4 linked regions of the Homo sapiens genome follow. The protein of the gene in region 4 interacts with the protein of the main gene of each other region in a pairwise test. Each region holds a gene or a part of one and is shown on either strand. Other genes may lie near its edges.

Evidence for each region.
Region 1: the proteins of SRARP (region 4) and FNDC3B interact in binary tests that used the Homo sapiens proteins (3 or more experiments, as listed by UniProt).
Region 2: the proteins of SRARP (region 4) and BANP interact in binary tests that used the Homo sapiens proteins (3 or more experiments, as listed by UniProt).
Region 3: the proteins of SRARP (region 4) and QRICH1 interact in binary tests that used the Homo sapiens proteins (3 or more experiments, as listed by UniProt).

The regions. Positions count from the first base shown.
Region 1 is NC_000003.12:172,035,488-172,042,599, reverse strand, and holds the start of FNDC3B (fibronectin type III domain-containing protein 3B), read right to left. Parts: upstream 3,023-7,112; 5' UTR 2,829-3,022; intron 2,070-2,828; exon of another isoform or gene 1,976-2,069; intron 1-1,975. UniProt on the Homo sapiens protein: May be a positive regulator of adipogenesis.
Region 2 is NC_000016.10:87,946,478-87,954,441, reverse strand, and holds the start of BANP (protein BANP), read right to left. Parts: upstream 3,009-7,964; 5' UTR 2,927-3,008; intron 2,262-2,926; exon of another isoform or gene 2,028-2,261; intron 1-2,027. UniProt on the Homo sapiens protein: Controls V(D)J recombination during T-cell development by repressing T-cell receptor (TCR) beta enhancer function. Binds to scaffold/matrix attachment region beta (S/MARbeta), an ATC-rich DNA sequence located upstream of the TCR beta enhancer.
Region 3 is NC_000003.12:49,091,050-49,097,986, forward strand, and holds the start of QRICH1 (transcriptional regulator QRICH1), read right to left. Parts: upstream 3,023-6,937; 5' UTR 2,863-3,022; exon of another isoform or gene 2,845-2,862; intron 2,562-2,844; exon of another isoform or gene 1,899-2,561; intron 1,408-1,898; exon of another isoform or gene 1,348-1,407; intron 1-1,347. Other genes in the region: QARS1 (glutamine--tRNA ligase), read right to left, coding at 4,980-5,030. UniProt on the Homo sapiens protein: Transcriptional regulator that acts as a mediator of the integrated stress response (ISR) through transcriptional control of protein homeostasis under conditions of ER stress.
Region 4 is NC_000001.11:16,000,406-16,007,235, reverse strand, and holds the start of SRARP (steroid receptor-associated and regulated protein), read right to left. Parts: upstream 3,001-6,830; 5' UTR 2,933-3,000; coding exon 2,851-2,932; intron 1,318-2,850; coding exon 890-1,317; 3' UTR 1-889. UniProt on the Homo sapiens protein: May regulate the transcriptional function of androgen and estrogen receptors.

The sequences.
Region 1 (7,112 bases), on a different chromosome or scaffold from region 4:
ATTTTAATGAGATAATGTATAAAAGCACAGGAATTAGTGCTTAGTACACATCAGATATCCCAGAAAGGAGCTATTAACACAATCCTGTATTAAACTTTCGTCTATAATGGTGACCCTCAACAAGTCACTTTCCCTTCCCGGGCCTCATTTTCCAAACTGACAAGTGTGGTAAGTTCTTCTACTTAGCTCCTAATGAACTTATCCATCAAATGCTACCAGGTTAAATACTGAGCAAAAGGAGCACAAACTCCTACTGAGTGAACTGCTACCTAGCCTCCAAGGGCCTAGAGCTTCCTCACAGATCCCAAGCATTCTTCAAGAAACCGCAGAAGACTGGCTCTCCAATATAACCCATCGTCTGATGTGAGCTATTTATAAAGTCTGTATTAAAAGATTACCGGAATATCTTTCTGAAATTGTATATACTGTAATTAGAAGCTACAACCTCCTATTTCATGATGAGATCCTGCAGTTTTAGCATCTTTTAAATGAACGCTATCCTTACAGATGAATTTTTTTTATCTTAAAGTAATTTAAACCACAACACTTTAAAAGCACGTGTGAGTTTAAAAACAATTTTGTAATGACTGATTTTTTTTTTAATCAACTATGCCTCATTCTCAGCCAGCCTGTGGGTGCCCCTCTGGTATCTAAACAAAGTGAGAATTGTACCTTCATGGGTGAGGTCCTTTTGCAGGGCCAGAAACATGCCCAGAGACTTTATCCTCGTTAACAGCTGCTCCCAGGGAGCCAGGAAATTTACTGATCCAGTAAATTTCAGAGTCAGCCTCCAATGAGGGGGAACCAAGGGCCCCCACAAAAGGCACAAAACCAGCGCTCCCGGCTGCTATCCACTGTGGGGCGTTGCCCGGGCACCCAGGTTCATAGCTTTAACTTAGGGGTGGAGGAGCAACTCCGGCAGCAGAAATCATTACAGAGCGAAGCAATTTTGCCCAAGGCCTGAGGCCTCAAAAAAAAAGTGTTATTCCAGAGCAGATTCCTTTTCTTCCGGGTCTGTCTGCTCCTTCTGACTCTTTGCCCACAACCACCGTGCCTCCCCATTCCCAACGCCCCACCTCCTGCCACATTTATTTAAAAAAAAAAAAAAGAAGAAGAACAAGAACAAGAAGGAGGAGGAGGAGAAGAGAAGGAAGGAAGGAAGGAAGGAAGGAAGGAAGGAAGGAAGGAGAGAGAAGGAGAAAGAAAGAAAGAAAAAGAAAGAAAGAAAGAAAGAAAGAAAACGATTTTTAAAAAGCATATTCCCTCTCCCTTAGCTTTCCCTAGGAAGGCCTGGAAACTGAAGGAAATTCAAATCAAATTAGTTGCACATTAAAAAATAAACAGACAAGCAATCAGGGGGTGCCCACCCAACAAAAGACCTCACCCGTTCCAAAATATGATTAAGCCTGGGAGGGAAGAGGGGGAGGGGGGACTAGAAACCAGCAGGGATGGAGAGAGAAACCTGTGGATTTTTGGCCCCAGCGTTGGCCCATTGCGGCCAAATTCTAAATTTTGTTTAAATAAAATGCTGGGTTGAGGAGAAAAGAAAACAAAAAGTTATAACTTTTAAGGAAGTCTGCAAACGGCACTGTCTGGATAAAATGCCATTGCTTCCCTTCGTCTGGGATGGCAGGGTGGGAGCTGAGATTCCAAAAGCTCCAACTCCGACCGCGCACTCCTGGAAGCCTCCCCGCCAAAGGCGCCGCCGGGCGGCGCAGCCCAGTCTCCCGAGACGGCGGGCCCGGGTCCTCCGGTTCCCACGGGACGCCGGGACCCGGACCTCTGGGAAAGTTCGCGGGCACAGCCCGAGGCCCCACTTTCTGCCGAGAGTGACAGGCCCTTCCCACGCCTGCCGGCCCCAGCCCAGCCGCGGGCACCAGACGGTCCGCGCGGCCCCTCCTGGCCGCCTCGGGGCGCAGATTCCGCCCGCCCGCCCTATCCCCGGCCGAGGCGCCCCTCGGGGTGACCGACTGACCGGAGCTCCGCTGGCCCACACACCGGGTCGCCCGCTCCTTCCCGCCGCGCCCCGCTCCCCCGCCCGAGCTTCCAGCCGCCGGCTCGCCAAGTCCGGCCGCGGCCGCCGGTTACCGCCCCCAGCCCGGGGGGAGCCCGGGGGGCAGGACGGGGAGGAGGACGTGGCGTGCTCGGAGGTGGCCAGCAGCGGGGCGGGGAGTGTCCCGGAGAGGCCCAGCCGGGGACGGGGGGGCCAGGCCGGCGCGGGCTCGGGACCCTCCCCGCGAGCATCCCCGGGTTCGAGGCCCCCGACCGCCCCCGCCGGCGCGGAGAGGCGGCCCCAACTTCCAGCCCCACTTCGCACTCCCGCCCTCTTCCCTCCACCATATGGAAATCTACAGCCTCAGAAAGTGACACGTCGAAGATTCCTCGGCCTCGCCGCCCGCCCTCCCCCTCCTGGGCAGCGTTCCTGCCGCGGAGATTCCGGGAGGGGGAGCGGATTCCTCGGACAAAATCTGCTGGGAAGGCTGGGGGTGGGGGGAGGCCGCGAGCCACTGCCCAATTTTTTTTAAGAGGAATCTACCCGTTTCTTTCACTCCTCCAAACCCTGAGGCAGGGGGCACAGGCGGGGGACCCCAGCCCAGCAAGGCGGGGGCCGCCCCCTCCCGGGTCCCGTGTTCCCGGGGTGCCCAGGCGAGCACGGGGCGCCCCAGCACTCCGGCGCCAAGTTTTTGCCGGGAAGCCCAGGGCGCTCCCGGGACAGGGACGCACTTTGGCGGACTCGGCGTCAGGCCGGGGCTTTCCAGTGCACCGGGACCCGGCGATCGCGCTCGGGGTCCCGGTCTCCTCTAGTCCCCGGCTCTTGCACGCCTTACCTTCCCTAGGGCTGAAACGCGGGGCTCTGGGCGCGCCACACACCGGGTCGCCCACGCCTTCCCAGCCGGCAGCCTGGAGGATCCCTGCCGCCCCCTTCGCTGCTCCCGCCGCCGCCGCTCTCCTCCTCCAGCCGCCGCCGCCGCCGCTCAAATAACTACCAGGAGGGTTTGATGGGGGATTCCGCCATGTCAATGATGTCGGGACCACATGGGGATTTGGGGCCCGCCCATTACCGTAAACCGCCGAATATACCGGCCGCCACAATCGCAGACTCGCAGAAGCTGTTGTCCCCCGGCCCTGCCTAGCTAAGCAGAAACTCCTTTTGGTTCAGCCAGACTAAAGAAACCTGAGGCTTAGGGAACTAACAACTCCTGAATGGCGAGGGCTGCGCGTTCTGCAGATCGCCAAAGTAATATAAAGGCAATGTTTACTCAGTGATAATTAAGCCTAAAACTGACTTTTTTTCATTTACACATATATTTCGCTTTTTGTTGTTGTTAACCCCCACAGCAACCTTGTGAGCTATATTACTCCCACATTTCCCACAGCATTTTATTCATACAACTAACATAGTATGAGCAATTTTTATTATACTTAAGTTAAAATCTCTCTTTCCTCTTTCTTTTTGTTTTTTGTTTTTTGTTGTTGTTGTTGTTTGTTTTGGGGACTGCAGGCACGGGGCAGGCATGAGCCACCGCACCCTTTTTTTTTTTTTTTTTTTTTCCTTTTTTGGAAGAGAGGGGGTCTCAATAGGTTGCCCAGGCTGGTCTGGAACTCTGTCGCTCAAGTGATTCTCCCGCCTTGGCCTCCCAAAGTGTTGAGATTACAGGCGTGAGCCAACTCACCCAGCCTTATTTCACAATGCGTTTCTCAGGGACAAAGACTGTTTCTTACTTTTATCTTTATATCCGTAAAATATAGCACAGTGCAAGGACCACAATAGGACTCATTAAATAACTGTTGAGTTCATATTAAGTCAAATGTAATGTATTTCTGTTGTACAGGCTCTAAGAGGTTAACAGACTGCATCCCATGCCACCCCTCAGATTATTCAGGAGACAAGAGAGCAAAAGTTAGCCTAGAGAAGCCCCTTCCATCCATAGCTGTCCAGGTATTCTGAATAGCTACATTCAGCCTCAACTATTAAGCTACAAAGGAGCATTCAGGGAGTCACTAGAGACAATGTATTACTTTTGTTAACCTAAAAAATAATAATAGCAGTACATAATACTCTGTTAAAGTCTAAAGAACACTAAGAAATAGCTCCTTCCTTCCCTTGTTCATTTGCCATTCTTTTGGGGAGATTTTAGCCTTTTTTTTTTTTTTTTGGAGGCAATGGTGAGTCCAGAGAAATGGGGACCTCTCTCCTAAATGGCTTATTTACTGTGGAGCTCCTCAAAGGGGAACTTGAAGCCATCTTTCTATAACATAACTCCAATTCTAGGTCATAGTCCTGCATGAGAAGCCGGGGCGGGGGGTAGGCAGTAGTTCCTTAGTGCCAATAGGGTACAATCCAATAGATCCCATTTGAGTCCAAATGCCTTCTCTGGCTCCAGACTCTTTGGCTTCCTCAGGTGCCATGCCTTCAGCCCAGCTGATCACTCATGGCTCCAGAAGGTACCTGTGTCCCTTTGTACGTGCCTTCCCTCTGAAACATACTTCTTCTTCCCTATTTAAGATCATTTACTCATCCTTGATCTCCGGCTAAAACCACTCCCTCCTTTCCTCCCTACAGTCTCATACCTCTTTTCCCCACAATCTTATAATCCTTGTCAGTTCTCACATTGCTCTGAAGTTAGTCTTTTTTTTTTTTTTTTTTTTCTGAGGCTAGAGTGCAGTAGCATGATCGTAGCTCACTGCGTCTTCAAGCTCCTAGGCTCAAGCGAGTCTCCCACCTCAGCCTCCCAAGTAGCTGGGACTACTAGTGTGTGCCATCACGCCTGGCTAATTTTTTTTTAATGTTTCTTTTTTTTTTTTCATTTTTGTTGCCCAGGCTGGTCTCAGACTCCTGAGCTCAAGCAATCCTCCTGCCCCAGCTCCCAAAGTGCTGGGGTTATAGGCATGAGCCACTGTGCCCAGCCTGAAGTTAGTTATACTTTATCTCTTCCACTTGACTGAGTTTTGTTCATGTTTGTATCCCTAGTATCAACCTAGAATTCTGCTTTGAATATAAGACCCCTTTGTGTTTGGTGAATGAATTAATTGTAAAGTATGTGGAAGAATCTGAATGACTAGGTAAGTGAGCAAACTTCAGAATGTGAAAGGTCAAATTCAGGTTGAAGGACAAGCTTGGCAAAGGAGGTAAAAGTAGGCAAGGGAAGTTTGGAGGACAAAGTTATTTATTCCTGTTTCTTCCACTAGACTGAATTTTTTCTTATTAAGAAGAAAAAGTTTCAATTTTCATATAATGCTTTATAATTTCACATGCATGTTCATATATATGATCTCAGTGTTTCATTCATCTTCTTTGCCCTAACACCTAACACCAGTTTTGGCACAGAAAAAAAGCCCATTAAATGTTTGCAAAATGAGAGGAAGTATGGTACACTGGAGAGAGCATAGAACATAATGAGAGAAAAGGAGTGATGTTGGGCATAAAGTTCTCTGAACCTGAATTTTCTTATTTGTTAAATTGTGATCTTTAATAAACCTTCTGGTCAAGGTTGTTGTGAGGATTAAAAAACTCAAGCACCTGGTACTCAGTAAATAAATATTGGTTACTCCTTGAATGAATGAATGAATGAATGAATGAGTAAATGAATTAATAAAGATATATTTCTTAAAAGGATTAATAGGACAGAATTGGAAGCTTCAGAGAAAAAGGTGGAATTTGTGATAGAGGGCTCTCACCTATACTTTGAGGGATTTAGATTTAATACAGTGAGAACACTGTGGGATTATTGAGGCATGAAGTAATTAAAATAGGTTTCAAGGTTATCTTAGCAGCAGGATATAGAACAAGGCTCATGTCAGAGATGCATGCCCTGAACCTACTTTGGAAATGATAAGACTTACACCAGAGTCATGGTTCTGGGAATAGGAAGAAGGACCTCAACCTAAGGCAATGAGTATGACTATCTGGTGTTGACAACCTGCATAATCTGCTGCTCTAGGTCCCAAATTATGAAACTATAGTCCTGGCTAAAACTTTGCTCCAAAAGCACCTTAAGATTTGCTCAAATACAAAAGTTAACATCCAAATGAAGATGCCTAGAAGTTAAGGCCTATAACAAAATATAGAGACTCTTAAACCCTTCTACCACCTATGCAATGTAGGCTGAGTCCAAATTTTAAAAAGATTCTTAGTCATACTTCTTCATCTCAAATAATTTATATCAAAAAATGCAACAGTAGTACACAGGAAAGAATGAAAGTATTGAAGCTAGCATTGAAAAGGTCTCAAACAATTCAACTTTTCTGAACACTTCTGTAGTCTAAAATGTTTAAATTTGAAACTCTCTCTCAAAGATCACTATGACTAGTAACACGTAATATCTACAAGACCCAGCTGCATTCTCAGTTTCAATGTCCTTCTTCTCCCTATAGCTCGAGTTGCTAGGTTCCCAAGGCAGGCTCAGTTCTGCCCCTACTCTTAAAAACTGCTCTTGACCACCAGGCATGGTGGCTCATGCCTGTAATCTCAGCACTTTGGGAGGCTGAGGCAGGCGGATCACCTGAGGTCAGGAGTTCGAGATTAGCCTGGCCAGCATGGTGAAACACAATCTCTACTTAAAAAAAAAAAAAAATACAAAAATTAGCCTGGTATGATGGCAGACACCTGTAATCCCAGCTATTTGGGAGGCTGAGGCAGGAGAATCATTTGAGCCCAGGAGGCAGAGGTTGCAGTGAGCTGAGATGGCACCATTGCACTCCAGCCTGGGCAACAAGAGCAAACTTCCATCTCAAAAATAATAATAATAATAATAATACTCTTGACCCTAAATAGAAGGCATTAACTCTTTGCATCTACTACTTATTCTAATGTCCTGAGCCATATCTGACACCAGCTTCAATATGAACACTGACCAAAAGCCAATTCATCTTGTTTTAAAAGCAACACTGCCACTTCAGTGAAGCACATTTCTCCAACAACTTCACCAGTCACATCTGTGGTTTTGCCGCCTTTTCTATTGTTCAAGGCAAGATAAGCAAATTTTAGCTCAATGTTTTATTTAAAGAAAAACACATTTTAAACAAAGAGATCTGTCCCACAGTTACCAGAACTATTCAGGTAGAAGCTGAATGATTGACAGGGCTCTTAAAAATCACAGGTTGATAGACTC
Region 2 (7,964 bases), on a different chromosome or scaffold from region 4:
AACATCAGTATGGAGGACTTGCCATAAAGAGGAAGAAGCCAACACTTTTTTTAAGTGACATTAGTGGAAACAAGAAATCAGAACAAAGGAGAGCTGGGAAGAATCCTTATTAGTTTCCTTAGAGTCATGGAGATGAGGCACTTGTGTAACAATAAGCTACTATGAAAAAGAAACAAGACAAATACATGCTTGGACATTAAAAATTTGATTGTGAACACATATTAAAGCCCTCTCCCAGAATGAGAATAAACGAGACACAGAAGGAAGGATAAAGACGCAACTCCAGGGCTCCACCTAGAACGTCCATCACAAACAGGAACTCCTAAGACAGAAGAGCAGAGCTGGAGAGGAAGAACTTCTCAGACAGAACAAGGGAACTTCCCAGAGCTGAAGGACAAAGCACCAGAGTCAGAGTCCCCGGCGTAGGAATCCACACACCTCAGCACACACAAGGGTAAAACATCATTAACACCAAAGAGAAGATCCAAGAGCGTTCAGGGAGGGAGAGGGGTCTCCACAAGGAGGAAGAGCACTTGCCAGAGGTTCCTGTGGAAACGAACAGAGCCAAGATGAAAACATTCCTGAACATACCCAGCTACAGAAGAAAGGAAAATATCAGGCTGGCTCGTGTGCAAGCTAACCCATCCAGATGAGAAGGACAGGGGCTGAAGGAGAAAGGGGACCTGACACTATCCTTGAGAATTTAAAACAATGTAAGGAGTCGATGGGAACAGAAAGTGCCAAGAGAAAAGCCATGACTAACAGAAAAATCCACGCTGTACAGGAAGGGAAACACTCAATTTGTCCGTGAAGAGAACAGTATTTGCATAGGCCTAACACAGACAGTCCAGGGGATAGAAGAGTTGGGATATGACAGAAGGGCTCCATCACCCCATCGTAATAGAAAGACAAGGCTGTGTAATACAAAATATCAGCTTAGAGCTAGGTGCAGTCACTCACACCTGTATTAGCGGCTACTAAGGAGGCTGAGGATCACTTGAGCTCAGGAGTTCGAGTACGGCCTGGGCAACATCAGGGGATCCTATCTCAAGAAAAAAATAAAAAGGATCAGCTTACTCAGAGCTGTGGAGAATGACCTAAAGAAACCACTCAAGATGTAAACCTCTTTGAAGAACGGGGCTGAGAGGTGGGGCAGGGGACCATTGCTTTTCATTGTAAGTCTTTCATTGACGTTCCTATTGTATACATTATATTGATTAAAATACTAAATATATGGGCTTTTTTTTTTAAGAACATAGGCTTCAGACAGACTGAATTCGAACCCTGGCTCTGTAAATCTGAGCAAGTCCCTTAGTGTCTGCGGGCCTAGTCACCTCATCTATAAAGTGGACGCAGCCTCTGCCTCCTGGGTCATGATGAAGCACCCGAGATGTTGAGCTGCCCCCACGCAGCGTGGAATCACAAATGGAAGCTCTTTTTTAAAAAGATTAAAGCCCCAGGCTGGACAACAAGGCGAAACCCCCTCTCTACGAAAAATACAAAAATTAGCCGGGGTGGTGGCGTCTGTGGTCCGAGCTACTCAGGAGGCTGCGGTGGGAGGATCACTTGAGCCAGGGAGGCCGAGGCTGCAGTGAGCCAAGATCACGATACTGCATTCCAGTCTCGGGGACCGAGTGAAACCCTATCTCCAAAAAAATAAAAATATTAACGCCAATGATGACAGAATCCAACATCGCAAGAATATATTCTTATTTTAATCGCCAGACACGGGAAGTGGACCCACATACAGAATTTTACCGCGTTTTGGTGTTTTCTTCTAGCACTGGATATCTGCGAGCTGCGTGTTAAATGACCAGATCCAGTTTTTATTTGACGTTTCCTGAGCTTACTCAGAACCACTCACTACTCCAAGTTATTTTTCTGTCCCCTAAGAACTTCCAGCTAAAAGTGAACCCTACAACTGCCTCCTCTTATCAATTATTTACTGTAGTGCGAGTTCCAGCATCGCCATCAGGCCCTGGAGTACATTCCTGGGCAGAACAGGCAACTCCAAACAGGGCAATTACCTGTTCCACATCAACAACTGTGTGACCCGGGCCCTCCCCGGTCAGGGTGCAAGCTCGCTACCCTTCAAAGCCCACACTCGCTCCACTTGCTCACAGTTCTTCAGGGATGATGTATTTCTCCAATAGCAAGACAACCCCTACCATCTCATCAGTGAAAAACATCAGTCCTCTATCAAGGCAATCTCTCCAATTTGCTCACACAGTGTGGATGGAATGTCATCTACTTTCTGCATCCTAGGGGGGAAAAAGAAAACGGCCACCTTCCTTAAGGACTAGATCACAGAAATCGCACAAACGTGCTGGGGAGGGGGCACCCCGAGGTCCTCGTTCATCGGGGCCCCTCGGGGGACGGGCTGGGGTCGTCGCCGAGGTCTGCGGTCCCCGAGAGCGCCCCTTGCGTGTGCAAGTCCTGGGCTATGGGGCTCCGGTCCACAGCCACGGAGGAGGCACAAAAACGATGCCTGTCGCTCCCGCCTGGCTGGCAGGAGCGACCCCCTTGGGAGACTTCGGGCCCCAGAGGAGCCCGGGCGCGGTTCTAGGCCTTTCCAGTCTCCCCGCCGTGGCTCCGGGTCCTTCCCGCGGGGCGAGGCCCGGGACAGAGGTCGGGAGCGCGAGGCCCCCGGGCCGGGCTGCGGCAGCCGCGGCTCAACGGACGCCGGGCGCGGTGGGGCCGGGGGTGCGGAAGCGAGGAAGCGGGAGCCCCTCTTCCGGGGCGCGGCCGGGGACGGGGAGCGGGGCCCGGGGGGCGATCGCCCGGCCCGGGCGGTTGGCGGCGGCGGGGCTGCGGCGCGGGCGGCCCGGCGGGCGGGAGGAGGAGGGAGGAGGGAGATCTCGCTCTCGCTCTCGCCCCGCGGGAAGGGGGAGGCGGAGGCGCGACCGGCTGCGGGAGCTGCAATTACCGTGTGGGCTGCGGAATTCTCGTGGTGTTTGTCGGGGAGATGCGATAATGGCGTCCGTCCTCGCGAGAGAAGCCGCCGCTCTGCGCAGGCGCCGCGAGCCCCTCCCCGCGACGCTCGGCCCCCGCCCTCCGCGCAGGCTCACTGGGCGCGCGGGCCCGGGGGCGGGGCACCCCTGTGGCAGTGAGGCCAGCTGCGCGCGCTTTTCCCGCTCGGCCTCCTGGTGAGCATGCGCAGGCGGCCTTCTTCCGCGACGGTACCGGCTTCCCAGGGCTTTTTTCCCCCCGTTTTTCGCCCACGCCCATGGCCTGCGTGAGAACAATCACCTCAGTGGACGGTCTGAGGAATTTGCATCTTCTTTGAGACGGAATGAATACGCATTAGCTCCCTCAACTACTACACCTCCCAGGGTGCCCTGCGCAAGCTGGGAGCCATGCATTCGGGGACTCGTAGTCCCTGCGTCTGGGCCATGCCTGCCGGGACTTGTAGTCTCTCCGGACTCCGGTGGCCCGTCCTGTCCCCGCACCAAGGGTTGCTGGGACTTGTAGTTACGATGTCTCAGGTGGGCTGTGCGCCCCCAGCGGGTCCTACCTGCTGCTGCGGCGGGTCCTGCCCTGAGGTTCCGGAGCGCTTGGTGGCGTTTTCCCTGACATAAGTGGTCAGGGGTCCCCAGTGTCTATCCAGAGGGGCCTGAGTGCACGCGCGCGGGACTTAGCACACGCGGCAGTGATTATGGTCTTAGATAAGTCCTATAGGTAACACATAATATAAATAAGTGATGGCGGCCGGGCACGGTGGATCACGCCTGTAATCTCAGCCCTGTGGGAGGCCAAGGCGGGCGGAACACCTGAGGTAAAGGGTTCGCGACCAGCCTGGCCAACATGGCGAAACCCTGTCTCTACTAAAAATACAAAATTATGCCGGGCGTGGTGGCGGGCGCCTTGTAATCCCAACTACTCGGGAGGCTGAGGCAGGAGAATCGCTTGAGCCCGCGAGTCAGAGGTTGCAGTGAGCCGAGATCGCGCCACTGCACTCCAGCCTGGCGACAGAGCGAGACTCTGTCTCAAAAAAAAAAAAAGTGATGACGTGAATGTGCACACGTAGAATAAATGTGCAAATGTGCGTTTGTGGGTAATCACAGGAAAAAATTCCCAAACCATAGCGCAGTTCCCAGAAATGTCATTCCTGGTTATCTCCCTCTGCTAATCTAGGATTACCTTGCCTTTCATTTTCTTCTTTATACTCGCCTCTGTTTCCTCAATTATTTGCAATGAGCAAGAATGCCTTTGAGCTCCCAAACACAGGGCGAGGCAGCTATTTTCACTGGGAAAAAGAAAATGCTGGCCGGGCGCGGCGGCTCACGCCTGTAATCCCAGCACTTTGGGAGGCCGAGGCGGGTGGATCACGAGGTCAGGAGATCGAGACCATCCTGGCTAACACGGTGAAACCCCGTCTCTACTAAAAATACAAAAAATTAGCCCGGCGCGGTGGCAGGCGCCTGTAGTCCCAGCTACTCGGGAGGCTGAGGCGGGAGAATGGCGTGAACCCGGGAGGCGGAGCTTGCAGTGAGCCGAGATGGCGCCACTGGACTCCAGCCTGGGCAGCAGAACGAGACTCCGTCTCAAGAAAAAAAAAAAAAAAAAGAAAGAAAGAAAAACAAAATGCTTTACCTTGAATTTCCTGCCCAACTCCCTTTTGCCAATAATAAAAACAGGATTCAGCGCAGTCATGGGCTATGCGACCTTGGGCAACCTTACCGAGTTAAAGTCTCCTCCAGAATTAGGCTTGGAGGTTCCACTGAGGCTGGTGGCTGGGTTACTTCGTGGCAAAAGTGCCTTACAAACACTCCAAGGAGGAGCCTTGGCAAAATGGCAGCGCTGGGACAGGTGTTGATCTGAAGATGGGACTTGTCCTTTTTCAACATGAAGATCAGCTCCAAAGAGATTAGAAAAATTGTCCAGCGAGGCCACAGGGCTGGAGAGAGGCACAAGCTGAGTTTGCAGTCCAGAGCGCCTTGCTTAGAGTGTGGAGTCCACTCACATGGAGGGAAAGGGTGCGTGCGATAGCTGACACAGAATATTCCCTCCGGCAGTGGGGACAAAACATGTTCTAGGGACGCACGCCTTTTGTCTCCACCTCCACCTCAATCACGGCTGCATTCAAATATTAATACTTGCCCATGTAAGAATTCTTAGCATCCACGCCGGAATATCTGGCTTGAAAACACAAACCTAGGGTGATGTCGTTCCTGTTGTTTCAAAACATTCCCAAGTCCGTGTCTGGAGCTGCACTTCCCCTATCCCCAGGCCTTGTGCAATGCTGGGCTCGGCGTCATGAACAGGTGTGAGTGGACAAGAGGAGGAACTTGTGGGCAAAGGTGAATCCATCTGTGACCATCCAACAAGCTACAGTGAGGTTTGTTGAAGGCCACTGCTGACTAGGCATTATCAGAAATTAAGCCAATCAAAACTATGATTGTGCTGCAGTTAGTGATTGTTTTGTTTTGTTTTGTTTTGTTTTGTTTTGTTTTGTTTTGTTTTGTTTGCATCAGGGTCTTGCTCTGCCATCCAGGCTGGAGTGCGATGGTACAATCAGAGCTCACTGCAGCCTCTACCTCTCGGGCTTAAGTGATCTTCTCGCTTGAGCCTCCAGAGTAGCTGGGACTGCAGGCATGCACCACCACCATTGCCTGATTTTTTTTTATTTTTTGTAGAGTCAGAGGTCTCAATATGTTGTCCAAGCTGGTCTTGAACTCCTGGACTCAAGCGGTCCTACCGCCTTAGCCTCCCAAAAAGTGTTAGGGTTACAGGCATGAGCTACTACACTTTTTTATTTTTGATGGTTTTGATTTAGTTTTTATTTTGCTGCTCAGGAAGCTAAAAAAGGAAGGCATTGTTCAATATTGGCATATAGTTGATTCACCGTAATTTTAAAAATGAAGTAGCTAGTCATCAGCAAAGACAGCTGTCTGTAGTGAAGGTTCGCTTACTCACCAGTCGGTACAAGGATCCAATCTGGCCTGGAGTTAATGAAGTTACAGTCACATTAGTGAGGGCATTATAAGAGGAGCGGGAAGTGCACTCTGGCCTGTGTGGCACCAGATATGGGGGCCACTTACAAGTGTGTGCACTAGGCCATAAGTAAAGGTCACAGAGGTCCTTTTGTCAACACCTCGAAATGCCCACATCAAGAAAACCCTGGAACCTTCCGACGGTTCCTCTTTCTGAGAATGTCACTAGGGTAGAGAAAGAGAAAGTAAACACGATGCACTCGGTGGCCCAGGAAAAGCCCAGGAGGCCGAGTGGAATGCTGGAACGCTGAGCCTGGTTGTTCTTAAGTGCGAGGACTTGGAGTTTGCCCGGCCAGGGCTAGAGTCTGAGCCTTCCCTGGGCAAGTTGCTGAGGCTCTCAGGCCTCGCTTCCCACTCTGGGAACTGGTGTTTAGATCTCACAGCTCACAGGGATATTGGGAGGGGTCCATGGCATGGAGGTGATGAAGCGTTTAGTAGAGAGTCTGATTCCGGATGTGCTCATGTTACCATGGGCTGGGTGCCCATGAGCCAGGCACATTTCACTGTAATTCCTATTCTTTGTGAAGAACAGGAAGACACGAGAGGTTGAGCAATACACCTGGGGTCACACAGCCACAGTGGGGGTAGAGACGAGAGGAGGCAGGTGGTGAGATGTGGCAGCAAAGGTAGTGAAGGCACAACTGCGTCCTTGTCAGCGAGGAAGGGGTGTCGTCTTGCTCCTGAGGCAATGGGGAAGACTTTACAAAGTTTGGGGCCAGAGTGGGTAGGATCAGATTTGTGTTTTGAGAAGTCCATCTGGCGGCCTGGCACAGTGGCTCACACCTGTAATCCCAGCACTTTGGGAGGTCAAGACGGGCAGCTCACCTGAGGTCGGGAGTTCGCAACCAGCCCAACCAACATGGTGATACCCCGTCTCTACTAAAAGTACAAAATTAGCCGGGTGTGGTGGCGCATGGCTGTGATCCCAGCTACTCGGGAGGCTGAGGCAGGAGAACCGCTTGAACCCAGGAGGTGGAGGTTGCGGTGAGCCAAGATCGCGCCATTGCACTCCAGCCTCGGCAACAAGAGCGAGACTCTGTCTCAAAAAAAAAGAAAAGTCCATCTGGCTGGAGTGCTGGAAAAGGAATGGGAGGAGGAAATACATTATCCTGCATGAATTTGAGGAGAGCAGTGGAGAAGGCTGTGACAGGCTCCAAGTGAGAGACGGAGGCTTGCTGCAGGGGGTTGCAGTGCAGACAGGATGAAGAGAAATGGACAGATTGGAGAGGTTCCACAGAGTGAAATCCACAGGACTTGCCCATGAGCCCGATGCTGGGGACTGCTAAGGGAGAGGGAGTGTCCAGGTGCTGTACTGGATGGTGGATGCACAGCTCCAGGAGATGGGAGACCGGACGTCATGGCTACCGCCCACGGTCGTGAGGACTGTCCCTGAAAACACATCTTTGCAATTGTTCCCCCCAGGGGGGCTCCTTCTGTAATTCATCCTCCACTCTCCACCCCTCCCCTGACTTTGCCACTTCATGCAAGGGCACTGTAAGGGTTTGAAGGTCTCACTGGAAGAGGTCAGCTTTGGGGTGAACTAGAGCCCTGAAAGGAGACCCCACTGGAAAACAAGATGATGATCCAGGGGTGATGGGAGGGGGTGGCAGTCAGCACCACTCAGCCCCTCCTGGCGTGGATCCCACCCTCTCCGGGGACAGGCCACACACTCTGGGCTGTCGAGAGAGACCAGGACCTACCCAGTCACTGCTGTGTGGATACGGTGCCCTCTGAAACTGGAGAAACAACCTACGCTTCCTGTACCTTACCTTCCTCACTTGTAAAGTGGATCAGCAAGGCCTCAAATATGGGGGCCGCTTACACGTGTGTGCACCAGGCCATTTGTAAAGGTCACAGAGACCCTTACTATCTGCGTAGTAACATGCATTTGAAAGAGAGAGGAGAGAGAGAGAGTGGCATTGCTTAGGCCCAGCAATTTGGCTGATTTCTCCTTTGTCTTGGCCAAACATA
Region 3 (6,937 bases), on a different chromosome or scaffold from region 4:
GTTTCTACTAAAAAATACAAAAAATGAGACAGGCATGGTGGCGGGAGCCTGCAGTCCCAGCTACTCCGGAGGCTGAGGCAGGAGAATGGCGTGAACCCAGGAGGCAGAGGTTGCAGTGAGCCAAGATTGCACCACAGCACTCCAGCCCGGGCAACAGAGCGAGACTCCGTCTCAAAAAATAATAATAAAAATAAAAAGAAAAGAACAGGTATTCATGTAACACCTAATTCTAAGGCTAATTCAGAAATCAGAGACCCTTACAGATCAAGAGTGGCCATTTAAAAAGCAGACAAGAAAGAAATATGGCACATGAAGTATAAACCACAACTAATTAAACTAAAAGAAAGCATATCCAAAAAAAAAAGCATATCCAAAGTAAGGAAAGACATCCCTGATTCTGAAGCTGCCTTAAAGAAAGGCAGCCACATCCAGAGCCCCTGACTTTGGTTACTTTCCTAGAGCAATTCAAATTTACAAGAAAATTAAACCACTATTTGATCTTTAGTTTGAAATGGCAACATAAGCTGGAGAGAGGATGTGGAACTGCAGAGGTTCTCGAAGAGTTATAGGAAAAATTCATCAGAGAGGACCCGAAGGAAGACATCTAATAAGTAAATCTTAGTTGACAAACTTGGAGAAAAAGTATTTATAAACACCAATTTAAAAGGAAGATCTCAAGCTTAATAGTTAAAAATAAAGATAACCCAGAACAAGCAAGCCTAAAAAATTAATCAAAATTTGGTCGGGCGCGGTGGCTCACGCCTGTAATCCCAGCACTTTGGGAGGCCGAGGGCGGGTGGATCACGAGGTCAGGAGTTCGAGACCAGTCTGATCAACATGGTGAAACCCCGTCTATACTACAAATACAAAAAATTAGCCAGGTGTGGTGCTGCATGCCTGTAATCCCAGTTACTTGGGAAACTGAGGCAGGAGAATCGCTTCAACCAGGGAGGCGGAGGTTGCAGTGAGCCGAGATCACACCCCTGCACTCCAGCCTGGGTGACAGAGTGAGACTCCGTCTCAAAAAAAAAAAAAAAGTCAAAATTTTAAGTGTATCCTAGAAAAACTTTACAGCTTTTCTTTGAACCATTTAGGTCCGTTTAAAAGCTGAGCCTGCAAACGCTTAAATCTGCGGGTTCCACTGACTTATATCCTAAGAGGAGAAAACTGAGCAAGTAGCGAACTGTGGCTGAATTCAAAGATGCCGTTCTCCCACATCTTCATTTTACAGCACCTAATAGTTTCTGGAAGACAGCACCCAGAATTGACAGGATTTGTAATGCTTCAGTATTACCAGAAAAAAAACTGTGCACAGATACTTCCAGGATATGAACAATTTTAACTCACCAGTCACCATGTTGCATGTATTTCTGCTGCTTGTCCTGAGTTCTTAAGACTTCTAATATTCTGAAGAAGATAGAACAAAAAAGTTCCTTCCATCCTCAGCCTCTTTTTATTAATAATTTTAACTTTGTTCTTAAAAACAATACAGTACATTAGAAAGAACTACCCCACCATTATCAAATTTGATGGCTAATTTTACTTCCTCTTAGCTTCCTATTCCTTAAGCTTAATTGAGCAAGACTGTAAATCAAACTAGCAGATGTTTTGTATTAGAAAAAAGAGGTGCCTATTTCTCTAGAACAAACCTAGAACTTCCTTGACACCAAAACACAGCGGCAGGGTCAAAAAAAGAGCTGAAAAGGACTGAAATCCTACACCAAAAGTGACTTTTACAGTGATACACTATCAGATTTTAGTAATTTCTGCTGGGATTTCTGCAATTTCAAAAAAGGTAAAGCACTGATTCTCAGGTTGTTCCATTTTGTTTAAGGCCAACTTTTTGGCTGAGGCAAAGGTGGGCCTTTAATATAATAAAGTAAGCCCCTCCCACTTACGCAAAAGAAAAGCTGCGTTTAAGGATTTAAACTGGCATTTTAGAGCTCGGAGTTCACATGGGCCACATAAGCGAATTCCCTTCCGGAGCGCACAGAGGTGACGTGTATGAATTACGCTTATGGACGTATTAGTTTCTAATGAAAGATAAGCAGGTACCACTCAAGGGCCTTCTAATATTAACCTTCCCTGCCCGGCAGAAAGCCCAGTACAAGGTGAGGAAATCCGAAGGGGCTCACTGCCCTCTCAAACCAAGAGGGCTTGGTTTCCGAAGCAGAGAAACACCCTACCCAAGCACCCGCACCGTACTTGGGCCTCAAGTAACGGCATTCTTCGAGGAGAACGGGCAATCTCGCCCCCCTCACAGAGGAGCGGAACCGCAAGCCAGACAGCAAAGCTGGTTGGTTTCTCTCCAGGCCGAGGCCACGGATGCCCGGGAACGTCACCAGACCAGAAAGGACCCAATCCTCAACCTTCCCAGCGCAACGAGCCGCGGCCGGCCCTCTGCTCAGCAGAAGCCTCCTGCGCGCTCTCGAGGCAGCACCGCCACCCGATATCAGAGCGCGCGCCCCAAAACTGGGGGTCGTCACGGGCGCGCGCTCCAGAAAGCCGCGGTTGCCCACGGGCCACAGCTCCTAGAGCAGAGATATCCGGGCCGGGAACGCGCACGTCGGCGGCCACGCGCACCGAGAGCCGCACAGCGCGCGCGCGTAAAAACAGGCTCAGCCGCGCGCCCGCACCGGCGCGCCATCTCGCGCCGCGCCCACCCAAATCCCCGGGCCACCCCTCCCCCATCCACAGGGCGGGGTGCGCTAGCCCAGGAACGTTTTCGGCTCCGGAGCCGCCCCGAACTCTCCAGGGCCCAGCGGTAGTGGCCCGCCCGCCCCCGCCCGCCGTTGTGTGGGGTGGGCCCCCCGTCTCAGGCCTACAGCTTCGCCGCATCCCCACCCGCACTGGAGCCCTCACCCGGCGACGTCACTGCCGCCGCCGCCGCCGCCTCCGCTGCACCCGCCGGCCCCGCCGCACCGCCAGGGACCCTGGTTCTGCCGTCGTCGCTCCAAGACCGACAGGGTTTTCTCCTCACAGCTCCCTGGGCGCCATCTTACATTCAACCCTCACAGCCAATAGGAGCCGATTGCTCCTCTCGCGATAATCGGGGCGTCGGATCCCGCGAGATCTGGGACTGCCTACCGGCCAAAATTAAAGTGAACGCTTCAGCAGGGGAAGGTGGCCGCGCTTCTGGCCGCTAGAGCGGATAGTGGATCCTAGGGTATGGAGCGGCTCGCTCCGCCCATGGACGCCTCTCCATGTGGGGCGGAGCTAGGGCCGTGGCTTGGCCTAGTAGTGGAGTCTCGGAAGGCTAGGGCTCCAAGCTAGCTCTTTGGACCCACCTTCCGTCGCCCGCCAGAGCCTCCTTTGGTCGAGCACGCCCACGCGGGGCGGGGCCTGGCCAGGCTCGGCCTCTCGCTTAAGGTGGACCCCACAAACTTCTGTCCTGGGCCTGGCGTCCCCAGCCGTGCCCTGCCTGGGAAGCCTCTAGGTTGCTCACCTCCTGGAGGAGTCAGCATCTGGTACTCCCGCTGTCTGCTGCCATCTGAGTTCAGCCTTCCGCAGTTGGGTCCACCTTAAAGCGGGCCCCCGGGTAGCCTAGTGTTTGTATACAGGGAAAATGTGGAAGGCGTTAAAGCTGCAGGCACACTCGGGCCTCAGCAGCAGCCTACACTGCCCCCAGAGGGCTTCCAGCCTGCTGTAGACTCTTTTTGCCTCGGAGCTTTTGCCCTTGTTCCTCTTATCCTGGCAAACTCCCCGTAGTCTTTCGTGATTCCCTTCAGAAGTCACTTCGTTAGAGTAATGTTTTCTGAGGCCCAGGCTGGGTCAGGAACCTCTTCCAGTCTTGCACAGGCCCCAGGGAGACCGCTCCCATACAGTGCTTGGTCACCCATTTCCCCTCCCGTGAACTTGGAAGGCCACCACAGCACGTATGCCCCATCTCACTTTGCCTGGCACGTAGTAGGCACTCAAAAATTATATGCCGAATGGGCCGGGCACGGTGGCTGAAGTCTGTAATCCCAACACTTTGGGAGACCGAGGCGGGTGAATCACCTGAGGTCAGGAGTTTGAGACCAGCCTGGCCAACATGGTGAACCCCGTCTCTACTAAAAATACAAAATTAGCCGAGTGTGGTGGTGCATGCCTGTGATCCCAGCTACTTAAGAGGCTGAGGCAGGAAAACTGCTTGAACCTGGGAGGCAGAGGTTGCAGTGAGCTGAGATCACACCATTGCACTGCAGCTTGGGGGACAAGAGTGAGACTCCGTCTCAAAAATAAAAAAGAATTATAGGCTGATTGGGCGCAGTGGCTCACGCCTGCAATCCCAGCACTTTGGGAGGCCGAGGCGGGCAGATCACCTGGGGTCAGGAGTTCCAGACCAGTCTGGCCAATTTGGCAAAACCCCGTCTCTACTGAAATTACAAAAATTATTCAGGAGTGGTGGCGCCCGCCTGTAATCCCAGCTACTTGGGAGGCTGAGGCACGAGAATCGCTTGAACCCGGGAGGCAGAGGTTGCAGTGAGCCAAGATTGAGCCACTGCACTCCAGCCTGGGCTAGAGTGGAACTCCGTATCAAAAAAAAAAAAAAAAAATTATATGCTGAATGATCAGACTGGGAGCTAGGCCTCTCCACACCAGCAGAAACAAACCTTTTAGATCCCTCTGGCACAGGGGTCCTAACCATGGACAAACACCCCAGGGCCCTCCATTCTCTCAGACCAGGTGCGGAGGGTATGAATCCTACCCAGGCCCCTGCCTTTAAGCACCAAAAAGTGCACCGGTGCTTTCAAAGCTGTCAGTACCACTCTGTTCTGGGAAAGTCCATTCTCACAGACAAAATGTGCAAAAGGCACATCTCCATCCCCCAATCATACCACCACCACCAGCATGTCTTCAGGGCCTTCAGATGCTAGAAGTGCAGAGATAACACACAGACTCTAGGAGAATTTAGCTGTTCTTTATTGACATGGAATTTGGGGTGGCGAGGGTAGCCACACCCTCCAGGAGGATGAGGTAGGTTCAGTGCTTCCAGCTCACACCTTTCCTGGGTCTTCCTTCAGTGTGACAGTTCGGTTAAAGACAAGCTGGAGGGCAGAGGGAAAAGGATGACCACCAACCCAGAACAAGGCCAGGGAGGCCTGGGCAGGTTTCACCACAGACACCTCCCCCTAACATCCTTCTTAAGCCAAAGAAGCCGAGGGACTAAGGGTCAGGAGGCCCGGGTCCTCAATAACTTTGTGACTTTGGGTAAGGGACTGAATGGGGCTCTAGGCTATAGTATTATATGGACCATAACAACCACCGTGGGGGTCCAGGGTATAGTTTTATATGGATTATAACAACCACCATGTTTGCCCCCTACTTTAAGGAGTAAGAAAGACAGGGTGGGCTGGTGCAGTGGCTCACGCCTGTAATCTCAGCACTTTGGGAGGCTGAGACAGGCAGATAATCTGAGGTCAGGAGTTCAAGACCAGCCTGGCCAACATGGCAAAACCCCGTCTCTACTAAAAATACAAAAATTAGGCCAGGCGCAGTGGCTCACGCCTGTAATCCCAGCACTCTGGGAGGCCGAGGCAGGCGGATCATGAGATCAGGAGATCGAGACCATCCTGGCTAACACGGTGAAACCCCGTCTCTACTAAAAAATAGAAAAAATTAGCTGGGAGTGGTGGCGGGCGCCTGTAGTCCCAGCTATTTGGGAGGCTGAGGCGGGAGAATGGCGTGAACCCGGGAGGCAGAGCTTGCAGTGAGCCGAGATTGTGCCACTGCACTCCAGCCTGGGCGACATGTGAGACTCCGTCTCAAAAAAAAAAAAAAAAAAAAAAAAAAAAAAAAAAAAATTTGCCGGGCGTGGTAGCATGTGCCTGTAATCCCAGCTACTTGGAAGGCTGAGGCAGGAGAATGGCTTGAGCCTGGGAGGCGGAGGTTGCAGTGGGCCGAGATCGTGCCACTGTACTCCAGCCTGGGCAACAGGGCGAGATACTGTTTCAAAAAAAGAAAAAAAAAAAAAAAAGGATGGCAGGGTGGCTGGGCACAGTGGCTCATGCCTATAATCCCAGCACTCTAGGAGGCTGAGACAGGAGGACTGCTTGAAGCCAGTAATTCAAGACCAACCTGGGCAACATAGTGAGAACTTGCCTCTACAAAAAGTTTTAAAATTAGCCAGGCATGGTAGTGTGCACATGTAGTCTCAGCTAAGGCAGGAGAATAGCTTGAGCCCAGTAGTTTGAGGCCACAGTGAGCTATGATTGCACCACTTCACACCACCCTGGGCAAGAGTAAGACCCCGTCTCTAAAATAAATAAAAAGAAAGGTTATTAGCTGCCTTAACGAAAGATATTAAAAATAATATCTTTCGGGTGTTTCACCATGTTGGCCAGGGTGGTCTCGAACTCCTGACCTCTGGTGGTAAGCCCTGACCTCTGGTGATCAGCCTGCCTTGGCCTCCCAAAGTGCTGGGATTACAAGTGTGAGCCACCATGCCCTGCCTCAAAAAATAATAATTAAAAAAAAAAAAGAGGTCGGGTGCAGTGGCTCATGACTGTGATCCCAGCACTTTGGGAGGCCGAGGCGGGCAGATCATGAAGTCAGGAATTCGAGACCATCCTGGCCAACATGGTGAAACCCCATCTCTACTAAAAATACAAAAAATTAGCCGGGTGTGGTGGCAGGCGCCTGTAATCCCAGCTACTCGGGAGGCTGAGGCAGGAGAATCACTTGAACCTGGGAGGCAGAGGTTGCAGTGAGCCGAGATGGTGCCATTGCACTCCAGCCCCGGGCGACAGTGCAAGACTGTCTCAAAAAAAAAGGCAGCCTTCATACAAAATTTTGTGCCTGGAGTTATCCTCAGTGCCAGTTTCCTCACTAGTAGAATATGAATACCAACTCCCTCAGGTGGTGAGGATTAACTAAGGGAATGTATGCAGAGCACTTGGCACAATGAACGGCAGCCACTGTCACTGCTGCAGATGAGGGCAGGTGAGTAAAGTCA
Region 4 (6,830 bases):
GGCAGCATGAGCCTGGTATGCAGTAGATGCTCAATAAATAACATGTCTTGTTTTCATTCGTTCAAACATGATACTCTATTTTTGAGTACCTCCCTCCCTTTTGAGAAGCCAGATCCCCTTATTTCCCATCTCAGATCCCCAGGTCCCACCTGGGCTGCCTTATGGGATGGAGTCTCCTGGAGCCAACTTCCCTGAGCCTCCCAGCCCCAACTGGCATGGCCCTCGAGTCTCCCCACGTGGTATCCCCTGCCTTTGCAGTGACCTACACACTCGCCTCTGAGCCAAGATGGCAGCAAGAAACCCGTTGCCCCTCCCCGTCATGCTGGGGCATTCTGACCACTGCTCTGGCCTGCCCTGGGGTAAGATGACAGCAGGTGGCCCTGGGGAGGGTGGATTTTCTCAGGGCTGGCCCCTTCTCATCTTTTAGATCACACTTTGTTGCCTGCGCAGAGAGGCCCTTACCAAGCACTGCATCAGGAAAGGTCTTCACCCCAATCACTCTCCCTCTAGCATCCTGTTTCAGTTCCTGCAGAGCATTCATCGCTGTTCAAAATCATCTTCTTTATTTATTGGGTTACTTTATTTATTCAGGGTGGGTTCCCTCCACCCCAAAAATACCAGCTCCAGGAAAACCATGGTATCTCCCCAGCACTTTGCAGGGCCTGGCATGTGGAAGATGTACCAGTAATATTTGCTGTATGAATGAATGAGTCTCTTCATGTGCAGGTGACTTATCCTGCCTCTGCCACTCGACGGATGTTTCAGATGCCCCTTAGCGGATCTAATGATGTTTCCTTGGCTCAAGCACAAAAGACTCCTGCTTAGCTGGGGAAGCAGGGCCAGGCCCTGGGAATTGCAGCCTCTGGGCATCAGAGCCCGGCCCTTCCAGCTAATCGGCCTGCCCACAGACACAAGAGGAGAGGGCTTTCAGTGAGTCCTTGACTGTTCCCCAAGTTGAAGACCTCACAGGCGCAGCCTTCACGGGTTTCCCCTTAGCCTCGGGAACCTCCTGGGGGCAGAGCGGGCTGACTGGGAAGGAAGCTGAGGCCACAGACCCTCTGCAGAGCGGCAGGGTGGCCCTGGCCTGGGCAAGGCATCCCCCACCCATGGGGGTCACCCGAGTCAGATGGGGCCAGTTTTCCCCACAGAACACGATGTAGGTCTTCATTGGTGGGGTGACAAGCCCTCGATTGGGACTGGGGGCTTGGGGTGGTGATGCGGTTGCTGCCAGGGAGAGCTGCTTCCCGTGGGTGCAGTCAATAACAAAAGTCAGGTGAGCCGTGGGGACGGTCTTCTGATGGCCAGCCAGCTTCCCACCTAGAAGAGAGGAAAAGACCAAAAGTTAGCACAAGCAGGGGACTTTTCTTTTCCCCTGAGACAGGGTCTCACTCTGTCGCCCAGGCTGGAGGTCATGGCTCACTGCAGCCTCAGCCTCAGGGGGCTCAACCAATCCTCCCATCTCAGCCCCCTAAGTAGCTGGGACTACAGGCTCATGCCACCATGCCTGGTGAATTTTAAAATTTTTTGTAGAGATGAGGTTTCCCTATGTTGCCCAGGCTGGTCTCAAACTCCTGGACTCAAGAAATCCTTCTGCCTCAGCCCAATCAGTACTGGAATTGCAGGCGTGAGCCACTGCACCCGACTGGGACATGGTTTCCTGAATTCATTTGTTTATTCATTCGATAGGGTTCAACTGGATTGGTTGATACACCAACAGAGGAGGACAGTCAGGGTTTAAGTGTATGGACTTCAGCATCAGAGAGACCTGAGTTCAAGTCTCCACTTACCATCCATCCATCTGCCTTCCAGGAACACAGAGTCCAACATGTCAGTGCCTCCCAACTTTGCTGTTCCCATGAGCTGCCTGGGGAGCTTGTTAAAATGCAGAGTCTGGTGCAGTGGGGCTGGGGTGGGGCCTGAGACTCGCGTTTCTAACAAGTCCCCAGGGGATGCCAATTCTGCTGGTCCATGGACCATATTATGAAAAGCACAGTCCTCAACCCCAGAGAGGAAAGCCCTGGCCATCTTTCCAGGTGAGGAAACTGAGGCTCAGCCTGCACAAGTGTTGGTGGGTCTCAGGGAGCATCTTGCTACTCTCCCCCTCCCCAGATAATCTTGTCCACAGCCTCAGAGAATCCCATCAGTACCTGGTGGCATTTGCCCTGGCAATCCCCCCGCTCAGAGCCCAGCACAGGGTAGAGGGATGGACAAACCAGCCAATAGACTTATCAATGAAGCAGGTGTCTGAGCAATTGTATCTGAATCCAAAGCCTGTGCTCTTAAAAAGGTAACTTTTTGAGTTACCCAAATAACATACACATCCATTCTCTTAGCTACGTGCTGTGAAACACGACGTGGGCTCAGAAGGAAGCTTATGTTCTAGTAGGTTGGCTAGCACAGGAAATAAAACGAGCCCGCCCTTGGCTGGAGAATCCCAGCAACCCAAGGGAGGTAGCATGTTTGCCATCAGACCCCCACCCACCCCCAGCTGGTCTTGCTTTTTTTTTTTTTTTTTTTTTTTTGAGATGGAGTCTCACACTGTTGCTCAGGCTGGAGTGCAGTGGTGCGATCTCAGCTCACTGCAACCTCCGCCTCCTGGGTTCAAGCGATTCTCCTGCCTCAACCTCCTGAGTAGCTGGGATTATAGGCACCCGCCACCACACCCAGCTAATTTTTTGTATTTTTAGCAGATATGGGGTTTCACTATGTTGGCCAAGCTGGTCTCGAACTCCTGACCTCATGATCTGCCCGCTTCGGCCTCCCAAAGTGCTGGGATTACAGGCATGAGGCACCGCACCTGGCCCCCAGCTGGTGTTTCTGTGGGGCTGGGGTCCCTTTGCCGCCTCTTACCGGAGCTGGTCTCCAGGCCTGTCTCACGGATGGTGCCTTTGAGGTTGGCTCTCCAGTCCCTGGGGTCTTCTGACGGGGCCATGCGGCTACTTCGGCGCCTGCCTAGCTCTGGCAGGAGAGGAGCTGTCCTAGGCCACTCTTCCAGGATGTGGCTCCCCCACTGCGGGACCAGACCTTTTATACTGACCGGATCCGGATTCTCTGAGTGCATTCCACCAGGAGCCAAAGGAACTGGCCCAGAGCAGTCAGGGGATCGCTTTGATCAACAGGGTTATGTCAACAGGATTATTGTTGGCTCAATGGGAGGCAGGCCTCCTACCAAACAGACCAAACAGACACTATTTCTACCAAGCGCAGCTGCTTCCTGATTTAGGGTAGGCCTCTGGAACCTTCTCATCCAGCCTCAGTTTCCCAAACCTCAGTCATTATCCAGTGGTTCCACCAGTTTGGCTTTTTCCCCTGTCTAGGAACTATACGTAATGCTACTTAATTCACATGTCCTTGAAGTCAGCCAACTGTTTTTACTGAAAAAGAAGTGCACTTGGCCGGGCGCGGTGGCTCATGCCTGTAATCCCAGCACTTTGGGATGCCAAGACGGGTGGATCACAAGGTCAGAAGATCAAGACCATCCTGGCTAACACGGTGAAACCCCGTCTCTACTAAAAATACAAAAAATTAGCCGGGCGAGGTGGCGGGCACCTGTACTCCCAGCTACTCCGGAGGTTGAGGCAGGAGAATGGCGTGAACACGGGAGGTGGAGCTTGCAGTGAGCCGAGTTTGCGCCACTGCACTCCAGCCTGAGTGACAGAACGAGATTCCATCTCAAAAGAAAAAAGAAAAAAAAAGAAAGAAAGAAAGAGAGAGAGAGAAGTGCACTTTATTTATTTATTTGTTTATTTATTTTGAGACTGAGTTTCGCTCTTCTTGCCCAGGCTGGAGTGCAATGGCACAATCTCAGCTCACTGAAACCTCCACCTCCCAGGTTCAAGTGATTCTCCTGCCTCAACCTCCCGAGTAGCTGGGATTACAGGCATGCACCACCACACCCGGCTAATTTTGTATTTTTAATAGACACAGGGTTTCTCCGTGTTGGTCAGGCTGGTCTCGAACTCCTGACCTCAGGTGATCTGCTTGCCTTGGCCTCCCAAAGTGCTGGGATTACAGGTGTGAGCCACTGCGCCTGGCCAGAAGTGCACTTTATTTTAATTTTATTATTATTATTATATTTTGAGATGGAGTCTTGCTCTGTTGCCCAGGCTGAAGCGCAGTGGTGTGATCTCAGCTCACTGCAACCTCTGCCTCCTGGGTTCCAGTGATTCTCCTGTGTAAACCACCTAAGTAGCTGGAACTACAGGCGTGTGCCACCACACCTGGCTAATTTTTGTATTTTTTTTTTTTTTTTTTTTTTTTTAGTAGAGATAAGGTTTCATCATGTTGGCCAGGCTGGTCTCAAACTCCTGACCTCAAGTGATCTGCTTGCCTCACCCTCTCAAAGTACTGGGATTACAGGTGTGAGCCTCCGCACCTAACCTATTTTATTTTATATCTGCTACTGGCCCAGATGAAAGAAATGCACTTTAAAAGGAAATTTGGTATTGCTATATTAAATAGAAACAGTATCACTTCCAGAAATAAGAGGTACCTATGCCTGGTAGCCAAGTTGGCCGCCAAAGATGTCCACGCCTTAATCCCCAAAGCCTGTGAATATATTACCTTATTTGGCAAAAGGGACTTTGCAGATGTGATTAAGAGTTTGAATTTTGAGAAAAGGAAATTATTCTGGATTACGTGGGTGAGCTCAATCTAATCACATGAGTCCTTAAAATCGGAGAACCTCGCCGGGCGTGGTGGCTCACGCCTGTAATCCTAGCACTTTGGGAGGCCGAGGAGGGTGGATCACCTGAGGTCAGGAGTTCGAGACCAGCCTGGCCAACATGGCAAAACCCCGTCTCTACTAAAAATACAAAAATTAGCTGGGCGTGGCGGCACACGCCTGTAATCCCAGCTACTCAGGAGGCTGAGGAAGGAGAATCGCTTGAACCTGGGAGGTGGATGTTGCAATGAGCCAAGATTGCACCCCTGCACTCCAGCCTGTGTGATGGGAGCGAGACTCCATCTCAAAAAAAAAAAAAAAAATCGGAGAACCTTTTCTGGCTGGATTAGAGAGATGTGATAACGGAAGAAGGCCAGAGAGATATGAAGTGAGGACTCAACCCTCCCTTGCTGGCTTTGGAGGCGGAGGACGGGGTCCTGAGCCAAGGTATGCCAGTAGCCTCTAGAAGCTGCGAAAGGCAAAGAAAGGGATCCTTCCCTGGAAATTCCAAGAAGAAACCTTCCTGCCAACACCTTGATTTTAACGCAGTGAGACCCACGTTGAACTTCTGACCTATAGAGAAAAAATTTGTGTTGCTTTAAACTCCTAAATTCTGATAATTTATTTAGTATCAATAAAATACTAATACACTATGCAAATAACAAAGAAAATTTTAAAAATTAAATTTTAGCTAAATTTTGTTGCCTGTGTTACATGACTTAAAAAGTAACTGGGTTATTTATATCTTACTACAATGTCTTGCTTCCTTCAGGGTCTCACTGTTGCCCAGGCTGGAGTACAGTGGCACAGTCATGGCTCATTGCAGCCTCGACCTCCCGGCCTCATGCAATCCTCCCACCTCAGCCTCCTGATTAGCTGGGACTACAGGCTCATGCCACCTCACCTGGTTAATTTTTTAAAAAACCTTTTGTAGAGATGGAGGGTCTCACTGTGCTGCCCAGGCTGGTCTCGAACTCTTGGCTTCAAGCAATCCTCCCATCTCGGCCTCTCAAAGTGCTGAGATTATAGGTGTGAGCCACCATGCCTGGCCTACAGTTTTTTTTTTTCTTTGAGACGGAGTTTTGCTCTTGTCGCTCAGGCTGGAGTGCAATGGTGCAATCTCGGCTCACTCCAACCTGCAACCTCCGATTCCCAGGTTCAAGCGATTCTCCTGACTCAGCCTCCCGAGTAGCTGGGATTACAGGTGCCTGCCACCACGCCCAGCTAATTTTTGTATGTTTAGTAGAGATGGAGTTTCACCATGCCGGCCAGGCTGGTCTCCAACTCCTGACTTCAGGAGATACTCCTGCCTTGACCTCCCAAAGTGCTGGAATTACAGGCGTAAGCCGCTGAGCCTGGCCCCACAATTTTTTTAAAGAAGTAACTGGACACGCGTGATAGCAGGCACCTCTGATACCATAGGACAAGAAGGGTACTTTATGTCTGTGGTCTCCTACCCCAAAATTCCTAACGCCAGTCTAAATATGAGAAAAACATTGGATAAATCCAAACTGAGGAACATTCCATAAAATACATGTACAATCCCCAAACTCTCAAGATCATGAAAAACAATGGGAGACAAAAACTGTCACAGACCAGAAGAGACTAAACAGACATGAAAACTTGCTACAGTGGAGGTATCCTGAATTGCATCTTGAAAAGGGCACTGCAGAAATACTGGTGAAATCTGAATAAAGCCTGGAGTTTAGACGCTAATAATGTACTGATGTTGCTTTCTTAGTTTCGACAAACATTCTATGGTCATGTAACGTGTTGACAATAGGGGAAATTGGATGTGGTGTATACAGCTCTGTACAACCGTTGCAGCTTTTCAATACATTGGAAATTGTTCTAAAATTTACAAATTATTATTGGCCAGGCACGGTAGTTCACGCCTGTAATCCCAGCACTTTGGGAGGCCGAGGCAGGTGGGTCACTTGAGCCCAGGAGTTCTAGGTGAGCCTGGGCAACATGGTGAAACTCCATCTCTACTAAACATACAAAAATTAGCCAGGCTTGGTGGTGCGTGCCACAGTGCACAGCGCACAGCCATAGCTCACTGGAGCCTCAAACTCCTGAGCTCAAGCCATCCTCCTGCCTCAGCCTCCCAAGTAGCTAGGAATACAGGTTCATGCAACTATGTCCAGCTAATTTTAAAAGTTTTTGT